Homo sapiens: one gene and its partners. The protein of the gene in region 4 binds, or shares a complex with, the protein of the main gene of each other region. Each region holds a gene or a part of one and is shown on either strand. Other genes may lie near its edges. The genes, in order: DRC9, DRC10, DRC5 and DRC7.

Region 1 (7,022 bases), on a different chromosome or scaffold from region 4:
CTACCATTTTGCCTTCCCTTGTTCCCAAGTAGTACATTTTGCAGCCTACCAAGATGAAAGGACTTAGGAAAATAATTGTAAGAGTGCTATTGAATGTGGCTTATTTCAGTGCGAAGCCGATTTCCGAGGATTGTTTTTCTGGCGTTTGGAGAAGATGCCTAAATTGAGGGCGGAGTCGAAAGATGTTTAATCCCACAAGGCCACGCGGCGGGGCCTCGTCCTTCTCTTACCGCCATCTTGGCTCCTGTGGAGGTGAGTGAAGGGTCTGCTGCTGAAATTTGGGGGCAAATAACCGGAGTAGGTTTGTTCCTGTGCCTTGGCGAGTCGCCGGTGCGTATCGGAGTCTCTGCCAGCCATTGATTTCTACGGGTTTCAAGAAGAGGGAGAACAGGATGGAGGAGATGTTGGGCTGATGGTGTTTGGTCCCCTGACACCCGGAGAACGGCTGCCCGGGTTATCCCAGTTAAATTCCTGGGCCTGAACGGAGTGAAACGATGTTTTTGTTCGTGTGCAGTTGTCCATGAGGCAGTGCTTCCTTCATCCGTTTCCTCCCAGTCCATACCTTCCTTGGCTTGTCTGACCAGTCTCTTTCCTCAGCTTTTCTCCCCCAGCCATTGCATAAAAGTCTTACGTGTGTGTTTCTCTTTAAGGCTTCATTTCTTTTCCTGAGTGTTGCCTACTGATAACGGCATGCATTTTCTCAGGCTTTTCTGAGAGTCATTTTTGTGACTCCTGTCCCTTAGTTTTGTCTTCATTCTGAAGTTTGCTTAGATACCAGCTGTTCTCTGAGGTTTGAATGTCTTGCCGGACCCTGCGTTTCATATGGATGTTCTGGCATTGTTGTCCCCGAACTCCTACATGAAACTCCCATCCAAAAGGAATTTGCTTTAGGGGCTTAAACGAGAGGGGACGAGGTGGGAAACTTGTGTGGCTTGGTTTTAAACTAATCTTTTTGTTTGTTTTAAGGCCTGCTGGGAACGGGACTTCTAAAAGGAACTATGTCTGGAAGGTACGCGTTTTAAATATAGTTCTTTATTTTTGTGTGTTAGACGTGAACGTAAATGCGAGCTTAAAATTGGCAAGAAAAAACTTAGATGTTTGCTCTGAGTAACTTTTGGGTGGGGGTGATTACAAGTCAGATTGGTTTTTTGAAGCTTATGTTTCATGTTGTGTATCTTTTGTGTCTTAGGCTGTGGTCCAAGGCCATTTTTGCTGGCTATAAGCGGGGTCTCCGGAACCAAAGGGAGCACACAGCTCTTCTTAAAATTGAAGGTGTTTACGCCCGAGATGAAACAGAATTCTATTTGGGCAAGAGATGCGCTTATGTATATAAAGCAAAGAAGTAAGTTTATGACACTGGTAGGTTTTGGGTTTTTGAGATCTGCCTCATTTTCTTTTTTATATAACGGAGTCTTGCTCTGTTGCCGAGGCTGGAATGCAGTGACTTGGTCTCCCTCACCGAAACCTCCGCCTCCCGGGTTCAAGCAAGTGTCCTGTCTCAGCCTCCCGAGTAGCTGGGATTACAGGCGCCGGCCACCACGCCCGGCTAGTTTTTGTATTATTAGTAGAGACAGGGTATTGCCATGTTGGCCAGGCTGGTCCCAAACTCCTGACCTTAGGTGATCCGCCCACCTCGGCCTCCCAAAGTGCTGAGATTACAGGCTTGAGCCACCGCGCCTGGCCTCATTATCCTATTGAAATAATAAACAAAAGATTTAGCTGAAGTACTTGGTATTGTTTTTTTGTTTTTGTGACAAGAGTCTCTGTTGCCCAGGTTGGAGGGCAGTAGCGCGATCTTGGCTCGCTGCAGCCTCTGCCTCCTGGCTCAAGCGATTCTCCTGCCTCAGCCTCCTGAGTAGCTGGGCTTACAGGGGTGTGCCACCACGCCCGGCTAATTTTTGTATTTTTACTAGAGAATGGGTTTCCCCATGTTGGCCAGGCTGGATTGGTATTGCTGTGGCTTCTATTTTGCGTCATTAAGGAACTTAATGGGGAGTTTTAGAAGGACGTTACTTCTGAGGGTGGTGTTGGATTTAGGTACCTTTTGCACTTGTAAGCAATAAAGGAGGTAATTCCTTATATTGTGATCCTTTTAAGGTTTCTAATTTTTTTTCTCGGCTCCTTTTGCCAGAATTTAAGGATTTTTAGAACACTTGTGCTTAATGCATTTTGTTAATGCCTTAAAATTATGGGTTTTTTTTTTTTTTTTTTTTTTTTTTGGAGACGGAGTCTCACTGTCACCTAGGCTGGAGTGCAGTAGCACAATATCGGCTCACCGCAACCTCCGCCTCCCGGGTTCAAGGGATTCTCCTGCCTTAGCCTCCTGAGTAGCTGGGATTACAGGCGGCCGCCACCATGCCTGTCTAATTTTTGTATATTTAGTAGAGATGGGGTTTCACCATTTTGGCCAGGCTGGTCTTAAACTCCTGAACTTGTGATCCACCCACCTCAGCCTCCCAAAGTGCTGGGATTACAGGCAGGAGCCACGGTGCCCCGCCCCTTGTTTTTTCTTTTCTTTCTTTTCTTTTTTTCTTTCTTTTTTGAGACAGAGTTTTGCTCTTGTTATCCAGGCTAAAGTGCAATGGCACAATCTCAGCTCACTGTAATCTCTGCTTCCCGGGTTCAAGCGATTATCCTGCCTCAGCCTCCGAGTGAGGTGGGATTACAGGCGTGTGCCACCACACCCAGCTAATTTTATGTTTTTAGTAGAAACGGGGTTTCACAGTGTTGGTCACTCTGGTCTTGAACTCCTGACCTCAAGTAATCCACCTGCCTCGGCCTCCCAGAGTGCTGGGATTATAGCGCAAGTCACTGCACCAGGCCAAAATTAGTTTTTATGCATGCCTAAAGATGTTTATGCTGTAGACTTTTTTTTTTTTTTGAGACAAAGTGTTGCTCTGTTGCCCAGGCTGGAGTGCAGTGGTGTGATCTCAGCTCACTGCAACCTCAGCTTCCCCAGTAGCTGGGATTACAGGCGCGCACCACCACACCCGGCTAACTTTTGTATTTTTAGTAGAGACAGGGTTTCACCATGTTGGCCAGGCTGGTCTCGAACTCCTGACCTCGTGATCCACCCGCCCCAGCCTCCCAAAGTGCTGGGATTACAGGCGTGAGCCATCGTGCCATTGCACCTTAGCCTGGACAACAAGAGCAAATCCTATTGTCTTCACCCACTCCAAGCCAATTAAAATCTCTGGGAAAGTGTTTTAATCATTGCCCCACCTTTTCTTCTACAGCCAATGTGTTCCTTTAAAATTTTAAGTCAGGTGCAGTGGCTCACACTTGTAGCCCCAGCATTTGAGAGCCCTAGGTGGGAGGATTGCTTGATGCCAGGAGATAGAGGCTGCAGTGAGCTATGATTGGGCCACTGTACTGCAGCCTGGGTGACAAGACAACCCCGTGGTCTTTAAAGGAAATATATATAAAGTCATATCCTTTGTACATTGCTCGAACCACAGTAGTTTCTCTCATTCAGTAAAAGCCCGTCATTAAGAGCTCCATAATTCTCTTTATCTCAGCTGGGATTAACCCCTTGGTGTCTTCAGTCTTTCTTCCGGCCAGGACACACACTCCTTGGCCCCAGTGCCTGCGCTAGTCATCCCGTGATCACTTCATGGCATTTCCCCTCCCTTTCCAGTCTTTGTTCCATGGTCACCTCAGTGAGACCTTCCTTGGCTATTTAAAATGGCAGGTAATTCCTCCTTTCTGTACACACAAATATCCTCACACTTGTCCTTTTTTGCTATTTTTTCAATATTGCCTCTGTTATCATCTGACCTATGTATTTTCCTTAAACTTACTTGGTTATCATGTGAAAGATTTTTGTTTTATAGCTGCTGTATTTTACAGAAGGGCCTGGCATACAATAGTTACTCGATAAGTATCTGTTGAATGAATGGTGTTCTAGGCATTTAAAGTTTCTCAGGTGATGAAGTGGGTAACCAGGGTTGAGAGCCACTCGTGTAGAGGTCACCTTGAATTTGTATCCAACTATATCAGCTTGTATTCCTCTTCTTTCCCTTTTTAAAATCAGCAACACAGTCACTCCTGGCGGCAAACCAAACAAAACCAGAGTCATCTGGGGAAAAGTAACTCGGGCCCATGGAAACAGTGGCATGGTTCGTGCCAAATTCCGAAGCAATCTTCCTGCTAAGGCCATTGGACACAGAATCCGAGTGGTGAGTATGGTTTTTAGCAAAATGGACGTCTGATGAATCAGACTAGGTTCAAGGTGTTGTGCTTTGACTTCTGAGGACTTCTGTGGTTGTGAAATTGACACCAGTAAATTATGCTGCAAAATTTGTGTATTGCAGAACACTGGAGAGATAGTAATTGAAAGAATTAGGTGTTTGGTTGTTTGTTTTTTGTTTTTTTTTTGGGGGGAGACAGGGTCTCACTTTGTCACCCAGGCTGGGGTGCAGTGGCATAATCACAGCTTATTGCAGCCTCGACCTCCTGGGTTCAAGCAATCCTTCCACCTCAGCCCCCCAAGTAGCTGGGACCATAGGCGTGTGCCACCACACCCAGCTAATTTTTGGGGTTTTTGTTGTGTTTTTTTGAGACAAGGTCTCACTTTGTCACGCAGGCTGGAGTGCAGTGGCATGATCTCAGCTTGCTGCTACCTTTGCCTCCAAAGTTCATGTGATTCTTGTGCCTCAGCCTCCCGAGTAGCTGGAATTACAGGCGTATATACCACCATGCCCAGATAATTTTTTGTATTTTTGTATTTTGTTTCTCCATGTTGCCCAGGCTGGTCTTGAACTCCTGAGCCCAAGTGATCTGCCCACCTTGGCCTCCCAGAGTGCTGGGATTATATGCTTGAGCCACCACAGCCAGCCTTGAATAAATAGTTTTCTGGTGAAGATATTTATTGGGCACTGAAGTAATTGTTAGAAAGCAACAATTCAACAGTTACGCCTGGCATAATTGTTAATATTTTGCCATTTCCATCATGTCAGTCTTGTTAGAACAGGTGTTAGTAGCTTTATTTTGTACATGAAGAAAACAGACTCTCATGTTCCTAGGTCTCAGGTCTTTGGTGCCAGCCTTGGACTCTAAATTTTTCTCAATTTTCTCCTGTAATTTTTCTCAAATAGTTCGTACTTTTTCTTTAGGGTCCATTTTGGAATGTAGACTGTATATTCTTGGGACCAAGAATATATGCATACCATGTATTCTTGGGGCCAGGGGGTACTGTTGAACCCTGCTAAGTGGTTCATTAGGGTTTATCAACAGAGGAGGCTTTTACTCTGTCTTTAGAAGAAGCAAAATTAAATGTACCTTCAGTACATGTTTTTCTTTTTCTTTTTTTTTTTTTGAGACCAGAGTCTCATTCTGTCACCAGGCTGGAGTGCAGTGGTGGGATCTTGCCTCACTGCAAGCTCCCAGGTTCAAGCGATTCTCCTGCCTCAGCCTCCTGCGTAGCTGGGACTATAGGCACGTACCACCATGCCCAGCTGATTTTTGTATTTTTTAGTAGAGACAGGGTTTTACCATGTTGGCCAGGATGGTCTCTATCTCTTGACCTTAGGATCTGCCCGCCTAGGCCTCCCAAAGTGATGGGATTACAGGTGTGAGCCACAGCACCTGGCCAGTACATGTTTTTTATGAGTGCCGGTTCTTACGGTATGTTCACGTAGAGACTGAAGGCTATAAAAACTTTCCTTACCACTAGAACATGTAATTGGTAGCCTTTCAGAGATTTATCCGTATTACGGTTCTTGATTTGTAGACGTATATATAACATTCACCTAATGTTTTGTGTTCTTTTTTCCCTGCAGATGCTGTACCCCTCAAGGATTTAAACTAACGAAAAATCAATAAATAAATGTGGATTTGTGCTCTTGTATTTTTAAGTGGATTAAAAAACTTACTACCTTAAATTGATTTGCTACATGCTTAAAATGATAGAGGTTGCTCAGCATTTTTGGAGTACAAGGGGGTCAGAGAGACATGTGATGAAAATTACAGGGCGAGTACAGAGATTTAGAAGGGAACGGGTTTTAATGCGAGTATCTTTGACAGAGTCTTGCTCTGTTGCCCATGCTGGAGTGTAGTGGTGCTCGCTGCAGCCTCACATTCAAAGGCTCAAGCAATCCTCCCTTGGCCTTTGAAGTAGCTGGGACCACAGGCTCATGCCACCATCCCTGGGTCATTTTTAAATTTTTTGTAGAGAGGGTCTGACTCTTGCCTATGCTGGCTTCAAACTCCTGGGCTCAAGCAATCCTCCTTCCTTGGCCTCTCCTGAAGTGCTGGGATACAGTTATGAGCCACCACACCTGCCAAGTGCTTTGTGATACTATGCATTTGTTCAATGCAGATTGGGAAACTTAAAATTTGAATGGAGATTATGTTGATGGGCTTTGGCAGTTCATTTGGATAGACTGGGATGAGAAGCTCTTGGGACTTGTGACTGGACAAAGCATTCCAGTATATTAAAATAAAATTAAGCCATATTACTCCACTCATAAAAAGCAATCCTATGGTAGGTACATGGAGGTTGGGAATAGTGCACGGAAAGGTGGCAGCTTTCTTTGGCTTCATGTTTTAATCTGGTAAAGTTCAAGATTGCACTTTAAGCAGGCCTCCTAAATATTTTAGATTTCTTGGGGATATGCTAAAATAAAACAACTAAGGCATCAGTTTTGCTGTATGGTTTTTTTTTTTTTTTTGAAGACAAGGTCTTGTTTTGTTGCTTGGGCTGGAGTGCAGTGGCGTGATTACAGCTTACTGCAACCTCAACCTCAACCTCCTCGGCTCAGGCAAACCTCCTGCCTCAGCCTCCTAAATAGCTGGGGCCACAGGCATGTGCAGCCACAACCAGTTAACTTTTTAGTTATTTGTGGAGATGGGCCTCACTATGTTGCCCAGGTAGTACTACATTTCTAACTGATGCAGTAACAGTCTTTTTGTCTGCCCCCTGAGGGTTACTGATCTCTACAGCACAGGTAGTTTTTTAAATTAACATCTTTAAATTGCACTGAAAATGTCAACAAGAAACTGGGAGTTTGCCACCTAAGCCC
Region 2 (7,003 bases), on a different chromosome or scaffold from region 4:
AAGAATTTTCTCACCCAAAACATCAATAGAGCTGAGGTTGAAAAACCCTGACCTTTTTTTTTTTTTTTTGAGATGGAGTTTTGCTCTCGTTTCCCAGGCTGGAGTGCCATGGCGTGATCTCGGCTCACTGCAACCTCTGCCTCCTGGGTTCAAGCGATTCTCCTGCCTCAGCCTCCCAAGTAGCTGGGATTACAGGCATGCGCCACCACGCGCAGCTAATTTTTTTTTTTTGTATTTTTAGTAGAGACGGGGTTTCTCCATGTTGGTCAGGCTGGTCTCAAATTCCCTACCTCAGGTGATCTGCCTGCCTTGGCCTCCCAAAGTGCTGGGATTTACAGGCGTGAGCCACCGTGCCCGGCTGCCTTTTTTTTTTAATAGACAGGGTCTTACTCTGTCACGCAGGCTAGAGTGCAGCAGTGCAACCATGGATTACTGTAGCCTTGACCTCCCCAGGCTCAGGTGATCCTCCCACCTCAGCCTTCTGAATAGTTGGGACTACAGGTGCATACCACCATGCCTGGCTAATTTTTGTATTTTTTGTAGAGATAGGGTCTCACTTTGTTACCAGGCTCCTAGGCTCAAACTCCTAGGCTCAAACTAGGATCCTCCTGCCTTGGCCTCCCAAATTGCTGGGATTACAGGCGTGAGCCACTGGGCCAAAAACCCTCAACTTAACATGTTTTTGAGGTTCATCCAGGTTGTAGCAATTATTAGTATTTCATTCCTGAATAGTATTTTATTGCTGAATAGTATTCCATTCTAAGGAAATATCATGAGTTATTTATTTATTCACCTGTTGATGACATTTGGGTTGTTTCCAGTTTTGGGCTGTTAAGGGTGATGTTGCTAAGAACATTTATATTTAAGTCTTTGTGTGGACTTATGTTTTCACTTGGGAGGGGTAACTTCCTAAGAGTGGAATTGCTAGGTTATGTGTAAGTTTATTTTTTGTTTTATTTATTTATTTTTGAGACAGGGTCTCACTCTGTCACATAGACTGGAGTGCAGTGGCACGATCTCGGCTCACTGCAACCTCCGCCTCCTGGGTTCAGGTGATTCTCCTGCCTCAGCCTCCCAAATGGCTGGGATTACAGGGACCCGCCAGCATGCCCTGCTAATTTTTGTATTTTTAGTAGAGACGGGGTTTTGCTATGTTGGCCAGGCTGGTCTCGAACTCCTGACCTCAGGTGATCCACCTGCCTGTGCCTCCTACAGTGCTGGGATTACAGGCACGAGCCACTGTGCCTGGCCTATGTTTAACTTTTTAAGAAACTGCCAACTATATTTCAGATTGGTGGTACCAATTGGTATTCTGCTGTACCTACCGGCAACATATGAAAGCTACAGTTTGTTTATTTATCTACATGATGATACTTGGTATTGTCTTTTTGATTTTTAAATGTCTACTCAACTCTTTTGCCCATTAAAAAAATTGAGTTGTCCTCTTATTGAGTTATAAGAGTTATTTTTATATTCTATATACAACTCTTTTATGACACATGATTTGCAAATATTTCCTCCATGTCTGTGTCTGTGGCTGATCTTTTCATTTTCTTATGAAAATATCTTTTGAACCTCAAAGTTTTTTTTTTATATATTTTTTTGAGACAGGGTTTTTCGCTCTGTCGCCCAGGCTGGAGTGCAGTAGTGCAATCATGGCTCACCGCAACCTCCGCCTCTTGCGATCAAGCAATTCTCCCACCTCAGCCTTATTTATTTATTTATTTATTTATTTATTTTTTGAGCTGGAGTCTCGCTCTATCACCCAGACTGGAGTGCAGTGGCACGATCTCGGCTCGCTGCAACCTCCACCACCCGGGTTCAAGAAATTCTCCCGCTCAGCCTCCTGAGTAGCTGGGATCACAGGCACACGCCACCAGGCCCGGCTAATTTTTGTATTTTTAGTAGAGACAGGGTTTCACCATGTTGGCCAGGCTAGTCGCAAACTCCTGGCCTCAGGTGATCTGCTGGCCCAGGTGATCTGCTGGCCTCGGCCTCCCAAAGTGCTGGGATTACAGGCTGAGCCACCGCGCCCGGCCCTTAGCCTCATTTAATCATCACAAGAAACTCTCTGTCTTCAGTAGGTACAATGAGATCACATCTTAAGGATGGAGATGGGAGTTAAATTCCAAAGTTAGGATAAAGGCAAAAGTGGTGTAATAAAAATTACCTAATTTATTTATTTATTTGAGACAGAGTCTTGCTCTGTTGCCCGGGCTGGAGTGCAATGGCGCTATCTTGGCTTACTGCAACCTAAGTCTCCCGGGTTCAAGTGATTCTCGTGCCTTAGCCTCCCGAGTAGTTGGGATTACAGGTGCGCCTCCATGCTCAGCTAATTTTTGTATTTTCAGTAGAGATGGGGTTTCACCATACTGGCTAGGCTGGCCTAGAACTCCTGACCTCAAGTGATCTGCCCGCCTCGGCCTCCCAAAGTGCTGGGATTACAGGCGTGAGCCACCATGCTCGGCAAAAACAACAACAACAACAACAAAACAAACAAACAAAACTACCTAATTTAAACACTGAAGTGAGATTGCCTGCTCACCGAGGAACGTATGGCCGTTGGGTGAAATGGGAGGGGACTTATAAACTCCCCTCCCACCCACAGCTCCCATGTTTGACTTGAAATAAGTTAACTACGATATGACTCTGCTTGACTGTTGTCCTCCTCGTTTTAGGGATGAGGGAGTGGAGCCATGAAGTGGGCAGGTAGAAGGGCAGAATGGAGGCCGGCTCCCTGCAGGTTGTGGAGCGAAAGGTCCAGACTAAGGCAGGAGCTGAGGGACAGGGTCCTGAAGCTGAGACGAGATCGCAGCGGGGGCTTCTAATTCCTCAGGGAGCCAAAGGACAGAGGGCTGAACCCTATTCCACATCTCCCCCGATCCGCGACCCTTTCCCAACTGGCTACTCACCTGCTCTGACCGCTCCAGGTTTCCCTAGCCACAGTTACCGCCGCGGTCCCTGCGTTGCTAGGTTACCCGCCAATCTCAGAAGGCGAGACTCGGTGTCTGACTGACCTTTCTTTTCACCATTCAATTTATTGTTCCGCTCAGTTGTCCCCACCTCCTGAAGTCTGACCAATCAGAAGCACCGCCATTTTGACCTTTCACCAATGGAAAGACTTGGGACTCCCTCTGGGTTGGACTCAACGAGTAAGGCGGGGAACAAGGGAGGAGTAAGGGGCGTGGATTCTTCGTCCCGCCCCTTCTTAAGGAGGCGGGCAGGGAGTACCGCATCGGCGGCGGGCGAGACCTGCGGAAGGACGTGATAGTTGGCCAATCAGAGTTCATCACGGTAGCCCAGTTAGCCAGTAGGACGCTGTGAAGGGGAAATGGGGCGGGGCCAGCGGGGTTGAGAGGACGGTAGGCGGTGGATAGGAGAGCTGGCGCAGCTGCCCTGGTGGCAGTGGCTGAAGTGGCGGCGGCTTCGGCGGCTGCGGCGGCTGCAACAGCTTCGGGCTCGGGGTTTTGGCGGCGGCGCCGGCGGGCTAGGCTGCGCGGTGCGGACCCCGGCGCGCGGTCCGGGTTGCTGGGGCGGCGCGTGTAAGAATCCGAGGGATGCGACGGCTTGGCCCGAGGGAGAGGGCAGGGATCAGGGGTCAGAGGACGCGGAGTAAGGGGTTGCGGCGCAGCACTCTGGTGTGGGAGGTGGGCCGTACGGGCCCAGAGGGGGCGCAGGGAAGTCTCCACCGCGCTTCTCTCCGTCCAGCCCGGGCCGGGGCTTTGCACCCTCTCTCCTCGCCCCCGACTTCTTAGGGCGACCCTCACGTGGGCTCCCAGCCAGGGGCTGGGAGCACGTGGAGCTGGAGCCAGCTGTCCTGCCTCCTTCTTCCTCCCTCCCTCGCTCTTCTCCCTGGCGCCCTTAGGTGACCCCACAGGAGTCTTGTGCCTGGGTCAGGCTGCCCCAGCGGACAGCGGGATGGTAGCTGAACCTCTTCCCCTAGGCCCTTTCCCCAGCGCTGGCCAGTTGGGTCCTCTGTAGAGGCAGAAGCAAAGCCCGCGGAGGGAACACTGGACCAGGACGCAGGAGTCCCGGGTTCTAGCCCTACTCCTCCACTGTGTGACCTTGGGCAAGTCTCTTCCCCTCTCTGGGCCTCATTTTTGTCTGTCTGGAAAAATGACGTGTTTGAATTCAAATCAGGGGACTGGTTCTAGTCGTAGGTGTATATAGGGTAATGGTTAAGCAGGCAGGGTCCCTGATTCAGACTGCCTGGGTTGAAACTTATAAAAGGCAAGTTAACCACTCCAAGCTTCAATTTCCTCATTCCTAAAGTGGGGATATTAGCTAAGATAGGATTTTTCAACAGCAGCTCAGTTGACATTTTGAGCCACATAATTCTGTTTCGGGAGGTCTCACCTGTGCATTGAAGCAAGTTCAGTGGCATACCTGGACTCCACCCACCAGCAATCCCCCCACTCCCAAGTTGTGACAGTCAAGATGTCTCCAGACATTGCCGATGTCCCCATGGGGGCAAAAATCACCCCAGTTGAAAGCCAGTGGGCAAAGGCAGTACAGGCAGGCAAGCAGTCATATATTAAACAGTTAAACAACCGTGTTGAAGCATTTGAATGCGAGGACTTTAATCTATGGTGGCAGATATCATGAAAATTATGCATGAACAACCCCCCTGCCTCTTTTTTTTTAGCTCATCATTAATGGTAGTGTATTTTATGTGTGGCCCAAGATAGTTCTTCCAGCGTGGCCCAGGGAAGCCAAAAGGTTGGACAGCCGTGAGTTAAAACATAGAAACCACTAGCCATTATGATAATGGTAACATTAAGAAACCTCTTCTCTGTGAGTTAATAAATTCTCCTGCCTTCAAAGTAAACATGGGAGATAATTGTCAAAGCTGAGTAATGGATACAAGGAAGTTCACGTATATATTCTCTGCACTTTTGAGAATGTTTGAAAATATCTGTGGTAAAAAGTTAAACCAAAACGACAATACAACCATAATTCTTAAGACTGCCAAATAGTAGTGTCTCATCTGGGATTTCCTCTTCTGCCTTTCCACTGCTGAGATTTAAAAGCAAAATAAATCCCCAGATCTGGAGGAAACTTAAGAAAAAAAAACTCACAGGAAGTGTGCTGGGCAGAGAGCTACGGGCTTAGCAGCAAGTAGAATGATGTTTACTTTCGCTGCCTTGTTTCAAAACGTTGTACTGTTCCCTGTGGATGCACAAGGATTTGCTTGGAGTTGTTCCAATGATTCGAGGAAGAAGTCAGTTGCTCAGCTGCCATTGACTAGGTCAGTTGGGAGGCAAAGTGGGTTGAGCCCAGAGCCCACAGCTTGAGGAAGGAACCTGCTGCTGTTTGCAAGTTCAAAGGTCTGCAGTCAGATCTGCTGAGTCTTTTTTTTTTTTTTTTTGGTTCTTCTCAGCGGAAACGGGAATGTGCATAAATAGGAGCTGTAACAGGCTAGCTCGGAGTGTTTTACTTATTTAGTTATTTTTAAATTTTTAGTTTATTTATTTTTTGAGATGGAGTCTCGCTCTGTCGCCCAGGCTGGAGTGTAGTGGCGTGATCTCAGTTCACTGCAACCTCTGCCTCCTGGGTTCAAGTGATTCTCCTGCTTCAGGCTCCCCAGTAGCTGGGATTACAGGCATGCACCACCACACCTGGCTAATTTTTGTATTTTTAGTAGAGACCAGGTTTCGCCATGTTGGCCAGGCTGGTCTCAAACTCCTGACCTCAAGCGATCCACCTGCCTCGGCCTCTCAAAATGTTGGGATTACAGGCATGAGCCACCACTCCCGGCTGCTCTGAGTGTTTTAAATTGGGAGTTAAGGATGAGCACTTTTACTGTATTAAAAAATACTCACCAGTTAAAAAAAAATACTCTTTTCCCCTTCCTCGGACACCTAAATCTAAGAGAACAACTCCTATATAAAAATGATATAAAAATCATACATTTTGGAAGTATGTTTCTAACTGTTCTGAGAGGCTGCATGGTAAAGCTGAAGTGAAAGATGTATTTTAAATCTGTATATATGAGCAAGTATATATTGATGATTGAAGCTAGGTGCTGCCTAAATACATGGCCCAGACTTTGAGGAATTATAGTGTAATGGCTGGGAATACAGGTTTGGAGTCACACCGTAGAGCTGAAAGCTTGGCTTTTATTTAGCTGTGGGTCCTTGGGCAGGATACGTAATCTGTCTGTGCCTGAAATACCCACCACACCCATCCTGTAATGGGGGGATAATAAGCCTGCCTATCTCATGGGGCTATTAAGAATTTTCAGTTAACTTTTACTTATGAAGTGCTAGTAGGGTCCCTCATACATAGTACGCACTCATTGAGTATTAACTATTATTATTATTACTATTTTGAGACGAGTCTCGCTCTGTCGCCCAGGCTGGAGTGCAGTGGTGCAATCTCGGCTCACTGCAAGCTCCGCCTCCCGGGTTCACGCCTTTCTCCTGCCTCAACCTCCTGAGCAGCTGGGACTACAGGCGTCTGCCACCACGCCCGGCTAATTTTTTGTATTTTTAGTAGAGACGGGGTTTCACCATGTTAGCCAGGATGGTCTTGATCTCCTGACCTCGTGATCCGCCCGCCTCGGCCTCCCAAAGTGCTGGGATTACAGGCATGAGCCACCGCGCCTGGCCGCATATTAACTATTATTTTAATGGTTGTATTTTTTTGTCATTTAATTTAATTAAATTAATTTATTTATTTATTTGAGGTGGAATCTGGCTCTGTCGCCCAGGCTGCAGTGCAGTGCACCATCTCGGCTCACTGCAACCTCTGCCTCCTGGGTTCAAGTGATTCTCCTGCCTCAGCCTACAGAGTAGCTGGGATTACAGGCGCAAGCCACCACACCCAGCTAATTTTTGTATCTTTAATAGAGGCGGGGTTTCTTCATTTTGGCCAGGCTGGTCTTGAACTCCTGAGCTCAAGTGATCCACCCGTCTCTGCCTCCCAAAGTGCTGGGATTACAGTTGTAAGCCACCGTGCCCAGCCTTTTATTTTACTTTATTTTTTAGAGACAGGGTCTCAC
Region 3 (7,022 bases), on a different chromosome or scaffold from region 4:
GAGAGGGTGGCTTCTGGGAAGCTTCTCCTCATTCCAAAAAGAGAAGAAAAGGGAGCAGGTGTTCTCCCGGTTTCTGCCTCTGGGCATGTCCCTGTATGAGATGTCAGAACTGTGGCAGCCATCTTGGGACTGACAGAAGCACTAGCGAGGCATTGGCCATGAGACTGGGGTGGGCAGAGCAGAGGGTAGCACTGAACCCAGGGGTTTACCGACCCTACAACCCTCTAATTCTGGTTGTGGGAGACACTGAATATTCCTCCTGCTTAAGCCATTTCTGATTAAGCTTTTTATTACTTGCAGTCAACAGCACCCCCTCTAGAAACTGTGTGTGTGTGTGTGTGCGCGCATGCACGTGTGTGTGCGTGTATGTGCCTGTGTAGGTGAGCAAGGCTGTTCTCATGGGGAGGTTTAGTAGAGGGTTCAGTGACCTAATGGAGGGCCCTGCTCAATGGTCATCACAGCTCCAACCCCTGCTGGGCTGGGTGGGCTAGCCCCAATGTGAAAGAATTTCACGTTGGGAGGCAGAATGCTACCATTCTGTGGTTGTGACCCAGTAGTGTGTTGCAAAGTCAATTTAATGGGTCACAGAAGCATTTTAAAAAATACAATAGAATGGAATGTAAAGGAAAATATCAGCATATATCACGTCATAAATTTCAATATTATGTTTATGTCAGTGTTCATGTAAATTGCATTTTTTTTTTGAGACGGAGTCTCGCACTGTCACCCAGGCTGGAGTGCAGGGGCACGATCTCAGCTCACTGCAATCTCCGCCTCCTGGGTTCAAGCAATTCTCCTGCCTCAGGCTCCCAAGTAGCTGGGGTTACAGGTGCATGCCACCACATTGGGCTGATTTTTGTATTTTTAGTAGATATGGGGTTTCACCATGTTGGCCAGACTGGTCTCGAACTCCTGGCCTCAGGTGATCTACCCACCTCAGCCTCCCAAAGTGCTGGGATTACAGGCGTGAGCCACTGTGCCTGGTCGTAAATTGCATTTCTTACTCTCAGACTTGGTTAAGAAAGTTTTAGAGACACAGTCTATTAGAAAGGACTCAGGCTTTCAATCAATCTTGGGTTTGAATCGTAGCCTTGCCACTTGCTACTGACTTGATGCCCTTGGGCAACTCACTATCCTCTCTGAAACTTAGTTTTCCATCTAGAAAGTAGGGTTAAATATACTTAGTTATATACTTAAATATATTTAGGGTTAAATATGCTTAGGGTTAATATACAGTTACTTAGGTAACTGTAAGGATTAAAGGAAAAATAATCATTGGGATACACAGTATGTGTGCATACTTGATGCAGTATGTAGTATGTAAACTCTGTGATCTTCACAATTATCCCACAAGTACCCCTGGCAGTTGGATTCCACACCCACCCTCACAAGCCCAGAATAGGTGGCTCACCAGCCCGATGTGGTTGCAGGACAGGTTGATGCTGGTGAGTGTGGTGTTGATGGCGAGCACCTGTGACAGGAGTGTGGCGGTGGGCTCAGACAGCTCATTGCCACCGAGGTGCAGCGTGGTGAGGCACTTGTTGGTCTGCAAGGCATGGGCAAGAGCCTGGCCACCCTCATCCTCGATGCAGTTGAGACGTAGGTTGAGGGAAATGAGGTTGGTGTTGTGTGCCAGAGCGTGAGCCAGGGACTGGGCACCGGGTGCACGCACCTGGTTGTTAGCCAGGTTGAGCACACGCAGGCGGCTGTGGCTCAGCAGCTTGGCAGCACCTCGTGCACCACGGTCTCCAATGAGGTTTTGTGACAAGTCCAGCTCCTCGAGGACTGGGTGGTCCAGAAGGCTTCGAATTATGATGCGTGCCTTGTCATCATCCACCTTGCTTCGGGTCAGCTTGAAGATCTGTGGGCAGGCAGAGGGTCTACAGCAACTGCCAGCCAGGGATAATCAGCCTGCCCACCTAGATCTTTGGCAAACTTGGCTCACCTAGTGTTGGCCACCTGGCTGGGTCTTGGAGGGGGCCAGGCCTACCAGCATGGCAGAGTAGTGTAGAATTGGTGGCAGGTAGCAGGGAGGAAAGATCACTGTTTATTGAGCAATTACTACATGCTGGGTATGCTGCTTGGGTCTTCCTTTTTTATCTTTTTTTTTTTTTTTTTTTTTGAGACGGAGTCTCGCTCTGTCACCCAGGCTGGAGTGCAGTGGCGTGATCTTGGCTCACTGCAAGGTCCACCTTCCGGATTCACACCATTCTCCTGCCTCAGCCTCCTGAGTAGCTGAGACTACAAGTGCCCGCCACCACGCCCTGCTAATTTTTTGTATTTTTAGTAGAGACAGGGTTTTACCGTGTTAGCCAGGATGGTCTTGATCTCCTGACCTCGTGATCCACCCGCCTCAGCCTCCCAAAGTGCTGGGAATACAGGCGTGAGCCACCGCGCCCGGCCGCTTGGGTCTTTCACAACCATTATCTCTAACCTTCAGCATCTCGATGAAGAAGAGAAAGTTCTCTCCATTTTACAGACAGAAAATGGAGGCTTACATTATTTCCCCAGAGTAATGCAGTGATTGAAGCAGTTGAGACAGGTTTGGAATCCAAGCCTGCCTGAGGCCTCAGCCCCTCACTGCATCCTCCTCTCCCAGCCAAGATCCACCAGGGCAAGGAGAGGACCTCTTTGAAGGAGGTTGCCAGGGCAAGAACCAGGGAGACAGTGGGGAGGTGGAGAAGCAGGAAAAGGATGAGATAAAGGAATGAAGGAAAGGGGATGGGGCTGGCAGTATGAATATTGTCCATGGGAACCTCTCCCCCTCACCTTCCCGCTGGCTTGTCCCACTCCTCTCTCTCCCTTGAGACCTCTGAGTGTCTGGCCTCTCTCTCTCTACCCTTCGGTTCACTCCTTTTTATACCCCTCTTACCCAGCTGAGTCCTTTGTGTCTCTTCTCTTTTCATTGCGTCTCTCTGGCAAAGCCCTAACCCTGGATCAGCCCCACTCTCTATTTTCTGCATGCCTGTGCGCAAGCAACTGACAAAATAGAAAACATCAGCTGATGGGACTGGTTGCTATCACCGGAAACACCAATAGGCTTGTAACGCTGCATGCCAATCTAACTATATTTCTCTGGCCAAAATACCCTCTTATAATCTACAACAACTATTTCAGCTTTTTGCAGCCTCCTCAGAATTCAGGGGCCTCCTTGCTGAGCCCCCTCTTTCAGCAGGTGAACTCTCCTCTTGCCTTCTCAGTCATTGAATGGGAACCTGTCATTTTCCTGATACCAAGCACTGACTTATTGGTCTATGAACCCGTGCCTCTCTTCTACATTCATCCCCTTTCTTGCAACTGGATGGAGCCTTACACTGGTTTTAAACATATGTGAGTTATTCTGAAGGAACCCAAAGCTCTCATCGGTTATGGCTGTACCTTTTCCCCTTCGCAGCCAAGTTCTTGAAAAAGCTGATCACAGCCACCCATTCCTCACTTCCCACTCTCCCCAGAAACCACTGCTATCTGGCCTCTGCTCCTGCCACTCCACTGAAATAGCTCCCCCTCAGTGACCTCCATGTTCACTAAATCCAGTCCTCAGCTCTATTCCACCCCGTTGCTCACTCCCTCTACTTGAAACATACCCCTCCCTTGCTCTGTGACACAATGCCATGTTTCCCCATTTCCTCCTCCCTCTGGCTTCCTGGCAAGCTCTTCTTCTTCCACTGAGACCACATGCCAGGCCTCTTGTTGTCTTGCTTTTGGCTCTCCCCTGTGAGACTCCATCCAAACCCAGGGCTGCAACTGCCACCTTCATGAAGATGGCACACATTCCCACATTCAATTCAGACCTCTCATCTGAGCTTCGGACCCTCTACCCAACTAACGAAATGACCCCTTCTTTGAGATGCCTCAAACTGAAACTTACACTCTTCCCCCTCAAAACTGATCCTCTTCCCACATTCCCTGTCTCTGCACATGGTCCCTCCAGCCATCCAGCCTCACAAGCCAGAGGTCTTGCACCTCACCTCCTTCTCCTTCCTTCTCCTTCAGATCCTCCCTGTGCCAGTGTGGCCAGGTGCATGCCAGACACATGTCTGCCTAAATATGTGTTGACTCTCTCCACTCCTTTGAGTCTCCACAGACACTACCCTCGCTGAAATGACCCTCACCCTCACCTGGATTTGGCAGTGATCTCCTAGGTAATCTGCATGTCCACTGCTGCCCTGCCCAGGCCATCCTCCCTCACAGACGGAGTGACATTTTCACATGTGAAATCCAGTAATGGTACCTACTTTTTTGCCTAAAACCCTTGGATGGTGTCCCAGAGCTCCTAAGGATAAAGATAGCCTCCTGGACAAAGCCTCCTTCACCCAGCAAGGCTGACCACCTCACACTCTGCGCCAGCCACACAGTCTTCTCTTTCTCTTTGAGCTGGCCATGTTCACTCTGCCCATAGAGCCTGTATGCACTGCTCCCTCTGTCTGGAACGCTCCTCCCTCTGAGACTGTAACTCGTCCTCCTCCTTCTAATCTCTATGTAAGTGACATTTGTTCAGGGAAGCCTTCCCTTGCAAGGTCAAATGCTCCTTTACAATCTCTCATAAGAGTATCTCTTCTTTATAGCATTCATCCCAATTCAGGGGTACCAGAAAAAAGTACAGGATGCCCAGTTAAAAATAAATTTCAGATAAATAAGAACGCCCCATGGAATATTCGGGACATACTTATAAAAATTCTTTGCTGTTTATCTGAAATTCAAAATTTTTGGAGACAGGGTCTCATTTTGTAACCCAGGCTGGAGTGCAGTGGTGTGATTGCAGCTCACTGCAGGCTTGAACTCCGAGGCTCAAGGGATTCTCCTACCTCAGCCTCCTCAGTCTCTGGAAGACTACAAGCGTGCCTGGACCTGAAATTCACATTTAACTGGATGTCCTGTATTTCTATTTGCTACATCTGGCAACCCTATTCTAGTATCAATTTTATGTTTATATGATTGCTGATTAGTGCCTTTATCCCATCAGACTGTTAGCTACAGAGGGCACAAATGATAATCTTGCTCATCCTTGAATCTTCAGCACCTAGGACAGGGCCTGGAGCGCAGCTGTTTGTTCAATGAAACCAACTGGTGAACTGGGAGAGCAGCGCCTTGTTCATCTCTACACCCCCAGAACCGTGTATCTTGGTGCAGGGTGCATTAAAAAACACTTGGCCAATGAAAGAGAAGGAAATAGGAAGAAGGCAATAATAGAGGAGGAAGAGGAGGGGAGAGGGAATCTGAGAGATGCTGAGAAGGGGTGGGGGGAAGGCTGGGAGCAGACAGTACCTTGAGGGTGTGGCATGCCTTGATGGCGGCTGCCAAGGAGAGGCAGTCACGGTAGGTGAAGAGGAAGAGATTCCACTCGAAATTCATGCCGCAGTCCTTGACATCGTACACCAGGTCCAGCTCCTCCAGGTGGCTCAGGCCAGCTACCAGATCGCCCAGTTGGTAGTGGTCAACGGTGGGCTCCTCCATCTCTCCCTCGCTGCCTGAGTCGGACTGGTCGCCCGGCCGGAGCTGGGCCGGGAGCTGCACCGGCGGAAGGAACTGATCGACGTGGACCCTGCGCACGTAATTCCGGCAGAGCGGCAGCAGGTCGAGGATCACCGCAGGGTCTGTGGTGCCTGGGATAAAGTGCTTTAGCAGGTTCTCCAGGTGCCGCTCGAAGAACATGCGTTTCCAGCTGCCGCCATGGTGGGCCACGTGGCACACGGGCCAGCGATGCATGCAGCAGCGGAGCCAGTAGTTCTCACTGTCTATCAGGTTGGCGGTCACAGCCAGTGGTAGGTCAGGGGACAGGTGGTTCAGGACCTTCTGCTGGTGTTCCGGGAGCATCTGCTTCAGGATAGGGTTTTCTTTGGGAACAGAGGAAGGAGCGCAGGGGGTCACAGTGTTGGGGGACACCTCAACATGATGCCTCAGGCTGGGCCTGCCTGGGAGCACCAGGCAAAGGAGAGACCCTTCCCTGCTTAGGGGATAGACAGCCTCTGCTCTCAGGGGGGCTCAAGCAGAGGGTGGGACACAGCCTTTAGCTTTGGGATGTTCCCTGCCTGAAGGTGGACATCTCAGCATCTGTTCTCAGGGAGTTCCCAGACTGAGGAAGACTCTCAGGTCCAACTCTCAATTATCACCTGGTCTGATGGGGGATACAATCCCTGAGGTCAGAGGCTTCCAATCTTATTTGATTCATCCATTTCAAAACAAGAAATTTTTTGAGCACCTACTATGTGCCAGACACTGGAGGTAGCACTATGAGAGACTACTATGTCCCACGTGCTGGAGATAGAAGAGTAAGCAAACAGGGCTCTCCCTTTTGGAGTTTACATTCCAGTGAGGGGAGGCTGACAATAAACAAGTAAAATGAGTGAGACTGGGTGATGATAGTTGCTGTAGATGAAATAATGGCCCTGTCCTCAGACAGCGCCCCATCTGGTAGGAGAGGCTGGCAGTCCATCTTTGGAAAGGATCAATATTACAGAGCACAAAATATGGAACAAACCAAGAGCCCTTACATGGCATGGAAGACTCCATCAGAGTAGAGGGCGGTTCACTTGGGAAGGCTTTCTGGAGGAGGAAGTAGATATGGCTCAGGCTGGGTTTTGCTGGAGAGAGTAGAAAAGGCAAGGAGAGGGCAGAGGCATGGAGGGTGCAGTGTGGGTGGGAGTCTGGTGGGACCTGCCAGTGGGAACAGAAGGAGAAACTGTCTTGGCCCTGGGTGGAAGGGAAGTGTTGAGTGGGTATGAGGATGCCATACGGGAGAGCAGGGGCTGCCCCAGGACCCAGCTTCTGCAGTCTTGGCTCCGGACAGTCCCCACCCACCTAGCCCCCCTCTTGGCCTTCTCCTGCCCACCTAAAGCAGGGACAGACTCACTCTGGAAGTTCCTGATAATGTGCTGAATGCAGAGCTCTGTGAGGAGGGGCACGATGGCCAGTGACCACTCAGGATCCTCAGCAATGATCCGGCGCATCCGACGGATATTGGCCCTGGGATGTGGGTTCCTGGACTTTGCAGGGACTGGTGTGATTGAAGGCTTTGAGAGCTG
Region 4 (7,935 bases):
GCCCACCTCCCCGTCCGGATGCTGGGTGCTGACGTTGACTGCAAATGGATGCGCTTCGCTTCCCCTCCCAGCCCACAAGCAGTTGAAAGACAGGAAGGTGGGCCCTCACTTTATGCAAGGCGCTGTGTTCCTGGAAGGGAAATTCTGGGGCGTGGACATTGCATCATTTGAGCCACAGGAGCAGTTCTGGTGGACAAACTTGGTGTGTTTTGGGGCTTATCTTCACAGACATCTGTTTCTCACACTGAAGGTCTCAACTTCCTTATCTCAAAGCCTCAGGGATGGTAACCTGAGAAACAGCTGTTCCACCATCTGATAGGTCTGGGCTTAAATCCTGGCTCGGCTACTTAGGAGCTGTGTGATCCTGGGCATTTTACTTCACCTCTCTGAGCCTCAGTTTCCCCATCCATAAAATGGGGATTATAAAGTCCTCACCTCATCCTGACAGCATTAAATGAAGTGACAGAAATAAAGTGCCCAGCACTGACTCCGCAGGAGTTAGTCAGCTCCCCCACCCTGCCTTGATTTAAAGAAAGACCAGCCAAGGGTAATGGCATGAGGAAATGGAGGTCCAGACAGGCCCAGCCACCTGCCCAACTAAGGTCACTCCATGGGCTGGGTTGAAGCTAGGGCCAGGCCTCCCCGGGTTGCCCTCATCCCAGAGTGGTCCCTGAGTTTAAGGATTATCACCTGGTCCTTGACTGGGCTTGGTGGCTCACACCTGTAGTCATAGCACTTTGGGAGGCCAAGGCAAGAGGATTGCTTGAGCCCAGGGGTTCGAGACCAGCCTGGGCAACATGGTGAAACCCCGTCTCTACTAAAATACAAAAAAAATTAGCTGGACATGGTGGCGTGCGCCTGCAGTCCCAGCTACTCAGGAGGCTGAGTCAGGAGAATTGCTTGAACCTGGGAGGTGGAGGTTGCAGTGAGCTGAGATTGTGCCACTGTACTCCAGCCTGGGCAACAGAGCAAGACTCTGTCTCTTAAAAAAAAAAAATATATCTAGGCATGGTAGCTACTTGGAAGAAGAAGCAGGAAGACCACTCGAGCCCAGCAGTTCAAGACTGCAGTGAGCTATGATGACGTAACTGCACTCCAGCCTGGATGACAAATCAAGACCATGTTTTTAAAAAAAAAAAGGAGGAGAAGAAGGAAGAGAAGGAAGGAGGAGAAGGAAGAGGAGGGAGAAGGAGGAGGAGGAGGAAGAAGGAGGGAGAAGGAGGAGGAGGAAGAAGGAGGGAGAAGGAGGAGGAGGAGGAAGAAGGAGGGAGAAGGAGGGAGAAGGAGGAGGAGGAAGCAGAAAAAAGAAGAAGAATAAGAATTATCATCTGGTCCCAGCCCCCAGTCTCAAGGAAAATCCTGGGTTGCAGAGTTTCCCAAACTGCTTAGTGGGATGCTTAGTGCTTGTTGTGGGACCAACAAGACCGCAAGTCCTGGATGGCTGGGCCTCCTGGCTCAGAAGGAGAGGGCAGATAAGAAGGTGTGGCTAGCATTGGGGGTGCACTGCTTTTCTGGCTTGCTCTCCATCCTGGGGCTAGGCAGGGGCTGAGGGGCTGGAGTTCCTCATCACCTGCGGTTCCTGCAAAAGCAGCTCCAAGTGCCATGTTGAGCACCCATAAGGCCAAGGGGGCTATGGTGAAAATACACCCCAAAGCCCAGAGCAGATGGATGGAGTTCCTCCGTCATTGCACAGCAGCAATAGCAACCTAGGAGGTGGGCCATCATCACAGGTGGGAGCACAGACCCTGATCTCCGTTCACCAGTTTCAAATTCTGTCTTTGCAACTTGTCTTGGGCAAATTCTTCAACTACTGAGCCTGTAAAGCAGAAACAGCAGTAGCTGCCCCACAGGGTTAATGAAGGAAATGAATAAATGAGACAGTGCCTGCAAGGACTGCCCACTGCCTGGCCTGCCTGGCCCAGAATGAATGTGACAAAGCCAGAGCTTTGCCTTGGCCATCATCTCATCAGGTCCTGGGTACAGAGAGGGTCCCTTCTGCCATGGCTCCTGCCTGGTTCTCTCTTCTGCCCAAATCTCTTCATTCCTTGTATTTTTTCATTACAACATAACAAATACACAGGAAAAAAGAAGACTTATTTGCTCCATGCTGTCAGATAGGCAACACTAAAAGATATAAATCCTTCATCAGTTAATGAATTCAATGAAATTACAGTAAAGATTTTGGGGCGGGCACGGTGGCTCACATCTCTAATTTCAGCACTTTGGGAGGCTGAAGCAGGAGGATTGCTTGAGCCCAGGAGTTCCAGAACAGCCTGTGCAACATAGCAAGACCCTGTCTCTACAATAAAATAAAATAAGGGAAAAAAATAAATATTCTAATTTATTTTTTTTTGCTTCTCCAGAAACTTTTAAAATTGATATGGAGGCATATAGACCTCAAATAGCTAAGTCAATCTTAATGAAAGAGGGCATACAGGAGGTGGAGGTTGCAGTGAGTCGAGATCATGCCTGTGCACTCTAGCCTGGGCGACAGAGCTAGACCCTGTCTCAGAAAGAAAAAACAGAAAGAGGGGCATAGAAGGAAGACTTGACCTCTAGACATAAAGATATTACAAGGCCAGTTTGGTAAATGCAACGTGGTGTCTGTGCAGGGATAGGAAAGAAGATCAGTGGAACAGCACAGAGTGCTCAGAGGCAGACCCATGGACACCTGGGGGATTTAATACGTGACAAAGGTGGCATCATTATTTTCAGAGGAGGAAATACCTAAAACTAACACATTAGTTCATGAAGACACATTTAAAATCATTAGTCATCAGAGAGCTGCAGACTGAAATGACAATGAGACCTCATTGTATCCTTATTAAACTGATGAACTAGAAAGCTAGATGGTACCAATGGGCAGGGACGATATGGGAGCCAGGGAGAGTCTAGACTGCTTCAGCTGCCTGGAGAAAAACACAGTGCTTCTGCTGAGCCAGCAATCTTGCTACTGGTTGTTTATCTTGAAGAAACATTCTTCCAGATCTAGACCCCTCTAGACCTGTGTAGCATTGTCTGTGATGGAAGGGAGCTGGTAGCAAATCTGAGTGGTCTGTCCAGCCCACCCAATGTCTGCTGGGGAGTTCCCTCAAGACTGCCCCAAACCGTCAAGAGGTAGGGCCAGTTGGAATTCCAAAGAAATAAACACTAAGCGCCGGGGTGATCCGTATCCATCCAAAGCATTTATTAGGGAAACGTACATAGGGAAGGCTGTAGTGTTCTCATGACAGACAGCAAGAAGGGAGATGAGTCTGTTCATAACGAGGAGGTGGGTTTATGGAGTTTATATGAGTGTTTAAGGGATTCGGTTCAGGGCTGGGGCACGTTTAGCATTTGTTTGATCTTTCCATGTTTCCAGCAACAACCTAAACAACTATCAGTGCCTGGGGACATTGAAAGCTCCCTCTAGAACACCTGGACACCGAGTGCCCGTCACTGGAAGGACGAAGAGGTAATAAGTGTGGATCCACACAATAACGTGGAGAGATCTTAAAAACACAGCCCTTCATGAAAATATAAGAACCAGAAGGATATATTTGTTCAGTCTCATATTAAACATATATTAAAAACACCAGCATGCCAAACAATACTCATTTTGGAAAAAAAAAATACACATCAGAATGGTTACTTTATAGAGGTGGGAAATGAAAGTGGGTATGAAGAGAAAAAGGAATGAATAAATATGTAAAAGGAATGAAGTGTTGCATAGGGTTGAAAAAGGACAATGAAGCCTATGCTGCATCCCACTAGCATAACGCATCACCTGTTTTCCTTTCTCCTCCCTCCTCCCTTCCTGCCTTCATCCCAGCCAGTTCCCCACAGAGGTAATTACGAGTTGCTTAGCACCAAGTCTGAAATACTACACACACTGTCTCGTGAGCTCTCCACAGTGCAATTGATCCTTTAGCACCAAGTCTGAAATACTACACACACTGTCTCGTGAGCTCTCCACAGTGCAATTGATCCTTTACAGCTTATTTTTATGGCTGCATGATATTCCAGCTGGGAGGGGGAACATCATTCTCTATTCATGAGAATTGAGGCAATTCCTAAGTTTCTAGCAGTAACACTAACTGTGCAAACTTGTCAGCACAGTGACAGTCTGGATTCCCTCCTGGCAGCCCTATCCCCTGACCAAAAAAGGCCCATGCACCCCTCCCTCCAAAAATAAAACAGTGAAGATTATATTTTAGGACTGTATTGGTAAAAACACAGATATAATTCAGGGCAGATTCACACTTATATAGTCATTATTATTCTCATTTTTTTCTTCTGAATTTAAAAGAAATTAAACATTTTCATGAGCCACTAGCCTAATGGATAGGTTTTCCCCGTACTTCGAGGTAATGTTCTACATCACAGCTCCGGCCTGGACTAGAACCCAGGACTCAGTCAAGGCAGCCTGGTTCTGTCCACCGCAGCTGGCAGCTACTCCAGGCCCCACACTGGTTTCTGTCTGTCTCGATCAAGGCCACATTCGGCATGCCGTGGGGCAGGGGCTGTGCTGTGCTGGTAAATGTTTAACAACTGGCTGGCTCAGAGGAAAAGCCCTGGTCTTGGCGTTTGCTAATTTTTGTGGTGTAAATAACCCCATGGCCAATTTTTTTTTTTTTTTTTTTTAGAGAGGTTCTCACTATATATTGCCCAGGCTGGTTTTGAACTCATGGGCTCAAAGGATTCTCCCGCCCTGGCTTCCCAAAGTGCTGGGATTACAAGTGTGAGCCACCGTGCCCAGCCCTCTTAATTTTTAATAATGGCTGTGTTTCACAAAAATTTTGGAAAGTTTAACAACTATCAAGTTGATGCCCCACTATACCAGTGCACCGCTGGCAGAAGGACCCATGAAACCTGGGAAGACTACATTTCCCAGAAGCCTCCTCTCCCAGGACCGGCGTTCAGCTTCCCAGGTTGTTACCATGGAGATGGCTAACAGCTAGAGCAGGCTGTCCTCGGAGGGGTGAGGAGGGAGCAAGGGACTTGGGGTGGCTGGACCCTGTCTGGCAGGGAAAGGGTGAGGCTGGTGGCCCCCTTCTGCCTGGGGGCCTCCAGCCCTGATCTTTCTGGGGAAGTTGTTGGTGGGGTGTGTGTGCGTGTTTATGTGTGTTGGGAGGAGGAAGTTGCTGGTGGAGAGGGGGTGCAGGGAAGGGCCGGTGGGTTGGGGCAGAATCTAAGGAACCTTGAGATAAGACTGCCTTCCCCACACTGGGCTATAGCTGAAGAGGCCACCTGTGTAGGGAATAAAGTGCTGTGGGTTCTTCTCCCCAGCTCTGCCTCTGATGGTGTTCTGGGACTGACACGTCGGCTTCCTCTTCAGCCTACTTCTTTCCTTGCCCACCACTCCCCCACCCCCACCATCCCTTCTAGCACTTCCCCATCTCATATCTCTTCCAGCCTGAGACACACAGGTTTCACAACCAGAAATACAGGGGTTCAAATCCCAGACCTGCTACTTACTGGCTGTACCTTAAGCAGTGCACTTAACTTCTCTGGGCCCCAATCTTCTCATCTGCAAAGTGGGTGTCCTCAGTGTCTGCCTCATAGAGTCAGTAGAGGATAAGTGAGATGATCTCCGTACAACCCTCAGCACAGGTCTGACACACAGTAGGCATTCAGCAAACTGTAAATGCCTTGTAATGGTGATGACTGCCCTTCCTGGGCTCATTGTCTCTGGGACCAAGAGGCCAACAAATGGATCTGATCACTGAGAAGTGCTGCTTGGCTAGAGGTTCTCCCCTGAGGATCTGGGGTCCTGAATGGTGTTGGGCTACCTAGGCCTTGGGTGGCTTCCAGCCAGATGAGCATTCGTCCCCTCCTGAGTCCCAGAGCACAGAATGTCAGAATTGGACAGAAAATATCTGCCCTCCCTTCCTACTATAAAGAGAAACTAAGGCACAGAAAGGCGCAGACAGTGACCCAAGGGTCCAGCAGGAGCTACTGGCAAAGCCAGGGTTTCCCCAACCAGGCTCAGTCGTGGCTGGTGGCCAGGGACTCACCTCCCTAGGAGGCCGAGGTGGCCCATGTGGGTGTGGAGTTGGAAATTGGGGCCAGCCTTTATCTGCTGCTCCCTTCTGCCCTCTTGCTCCTGGCTTCACCCAGGGAAGTGGGGGATGATTAGAAAATCAAGGGGATTCTGCTTTTTTTCCTTACTACTCGCCCCCTTTGTCCTGTGGGTTTCGTTTGTTTTCCTCATCTCTGGACCCCCATTTGCCGTAAGGAAAACAGATGTTCGAGGACAGAAATGGAAAGACCCCAGCTGGGAGGCTGCAGATAGTGCATCAGCTGGGATGGCGTTGGGTGGTGTGGAACAGGGACCCCCATAGAAGCTGAGGTTTCTTATATAAGGAAAGGCTAGAGGTGGCACTCCAGGCCTCTGTGGCACTGCTGGGGACCCCAGCTCCCCCATCTCTCGGCCCTGCCGTCCATAGCAGGCAGCTTTAGCCCTCATGTGTGGCCACCTCATGGTCTCGCCTTGGCTGCCCCACCTCCCACTTTATCTCCACATTCCAGGTGGGAGGAGGAGAAGGGCAGAGGGCTCCCCAATCACTTCTGCCCACATCTCATTGGCCAGAACCGGGTCACATCGCAGGGCCACCTCTAGCTGCAAGAGAATCTGGGAAGCTGAGCAATTCAAACCAGGCACACTGCTGCCCCCCACACAACTGGGGTTCTGCCGTATAGAAGAGGAGACTGGATCTTTGGGTAGGTGACTAGCAGTCCCCGCTCAGTGTGGCTCTGCTCTGTGACCACAGGACATATGGTGAGCACATGTGGCGTCTCTGCGTGGATCACAGAATGAAGCCTGTTCTCTGGGCCAACACAGGCCTTGGCCAAGAGAGAGTAGGCTGTGTTACCCCCACCCCCCACTCCCTGTTTGTATGCCCTGGTGCAGGCACCTTCACTCTCTGTGCCTCGGTTCCCAGTTTGATCAGGTGAGATATCATTCACCTGCCATCCTCATTTTTGGGTGGGTTGTAGATCATATCACCTTACCGTTAGGATTTTCTTTAAACCAATCTATTTATTTATTATTTATTTGAGACAGAGTCTCACTCTGTCACCCAGGCTAGAGTGCAGTGGTGCGATCTCAACTTACTGCAACCTCTGCCTCCCAGGTTCAAGTGATTCTCCTGCCTCAGACTCCTGAGTAGCTGGGATTACAGGCGTGTGCCACCACGCCTGGCTAATTTTTGTATTTTTAGTAGAGACGGGGTTTCGCCATATTGGCCAGGCTGGTCTCGAACTTCTGACCTCAAGTGATCCACCTGCCTCGGCCTCCCAAAGTGCTGGGATCACAGGCATGAGCCACCGCACCCAGCCAATTCATTTATTTAAATAAGAAACTTGACAATACTATAGTAATCCCCACAGCATTCACAGTACTTGTCATTGATAACTGTCAGCTGGCACAATGGCTCATGCCTGTAATCCCAGCACTTTGGGAGGCCAAAGCAGGAAGATCGCTTGAGGCCAGGAGTTTGAGCCTGGGCAACATAGCCAGACCCTGTCTCTACCAAAAAAAAAAAATAGCCAGGTGTGGTGGTGTGCACCTGTGGTCTCAGCTACTGGGGAGGCTGAGGTGGGAGGATTGCTTGAGCCTGGGAGTTTGAAGCTGCGGTGAGCCATGATCGTGCTGCTGCACTCCAAGCCTGAGTGACAGAGCAAGACCCTGTCTCAAAAAAATAAAAAATTTAAAAAAAAAGATAACTGTCAAATATACTAAAAGCAAATCGACACGTGCCTTTCCCTGTCCTGTCCTGAGGATGGCTTCCAACCGGAGGCCTGCTTTGTCTTTGTTGTAAAGGAATATTTGCCAGGATTAGAAAGGTGTTACAGATGGGGTAGCACCAAACAGAGACTTTCTCCATGTTTGAAAGGAAGTCAAAGAGGGAATCACTCCCTATGTGTTCGACACCTCCTCAAAACCATCTCCCA

The links.
Region 1: DRC7 (region 4) and DRC9 share a complex: the UniProt entries of both Homo sapiens proteins name them as parts of the nexin-dynein regulatory complex.
Region 2: DRC7 (region 4) and DRC10 share a complex: the UniProt entries of both Homo sapiens proteins name them as parts of the nexin-dynein regulatory complex.
Region 3: DRC7 (region 4) and DRC5 share a complex: the UniProt entries of both Homo sapiens proteins name them as parts of the nexin-dynein regulatory complex.

The regions. Positions count from the first base shown.
Region 1 is NC_000003.12:197,949,970-197,956,991, forward strand, and holds part of DRC9 (dynein regulatory complex protein 9), read right to left. Parts: intron 6,642-7,022; exon of another isoform or gene 5,805-6,641; coding exon of another isoform or gene 5,781-5,804; intron 4,179-5,780; coding exon of another isoform or gene 4,034-4,178; intron 1,343-4,033; coding exon of another isoform or gene 1,190-1,342; intron 1,010-1,189; coding exon of another isoform or gene 999-1,009; exon of another isoform or gene 967-998; intron 331-966; exon of another isoform or gene 221-330; intron 1-220. Other genes in the region: RPL35A (large ribosomal subunit protein eL33), read left to right, coding at 999-1,009, 1,190-1,342, 4,034-4,178, 5,781-5,804. UniProt on the Homo sapiens protein: Component of the nexin-dynein regulatory complex (N-DRC), a key regulator of ciliary/flagellar motility which maintains the alignment and integrity of the distal axoneme and regulates microtubule sliding in motile axonemes.
Region 2 is NC_000012.12:113,218,085-113,225,087, forward strand, and holds the start of DRC10 (dynein regulatory complex protein 10), read right to left. Parts: upstream 3,011-7,003; 5' UTR 2,913-3,010; intron 1-2,912. UniProt on the Homo sapiens protein: Component of the nexin-dynein regulatory complex (N-DRC), a key regulator of ciliary/flagellar motility which maintains the alignment and integrity of the distal axoneme and regulates microtubule sliding in motile axonemes.
Region 3 is NC_000006.12:44,280,699-44,287,720, forward strand, and holds part of DRC5 (dynein regulatory complex subunit 5), read right to left. Parts: coding exon 6,851-7,022; intron 6,582-6,850; exon of another isoform or gene 6,492-6,581; intron 5,835-6,491; coding exon 5,266-5,834; intron 1,862-5,265; coding exon 1,412-1,861; intron 1-1,411. UniProt on the Homo sapiens protein: Component of the nexin-dynein regulatory complex (N-DRC) a key regulator of ciliary/flagellar motility which maintains the alignment and integrity of the distal axoneme and regulates microtubule sliding in motile axonemes.
Region 4 is NC_000016.10:57,689,893-57,697,827, forward strand, and holds the start of DRC7 (dynein regulatory complex subunit 7), read left to right. Parts: upstream 1-4,913; 5' UTR 4,914-4,960; intron 4,961-6,510; exon of another isoform or gene 6,511-6,571; 5' UTR 6,572-6,702; intron 6,703-7,935. UniProt on the Homo sapiens protein: Component of the nexin-dynein regulatory complex (N-DRC) a key regulator of ciliary/flagellar motility which maintains the alignment and integrity of the distal axoneme and regulates microtubule sliding in motile axonemes.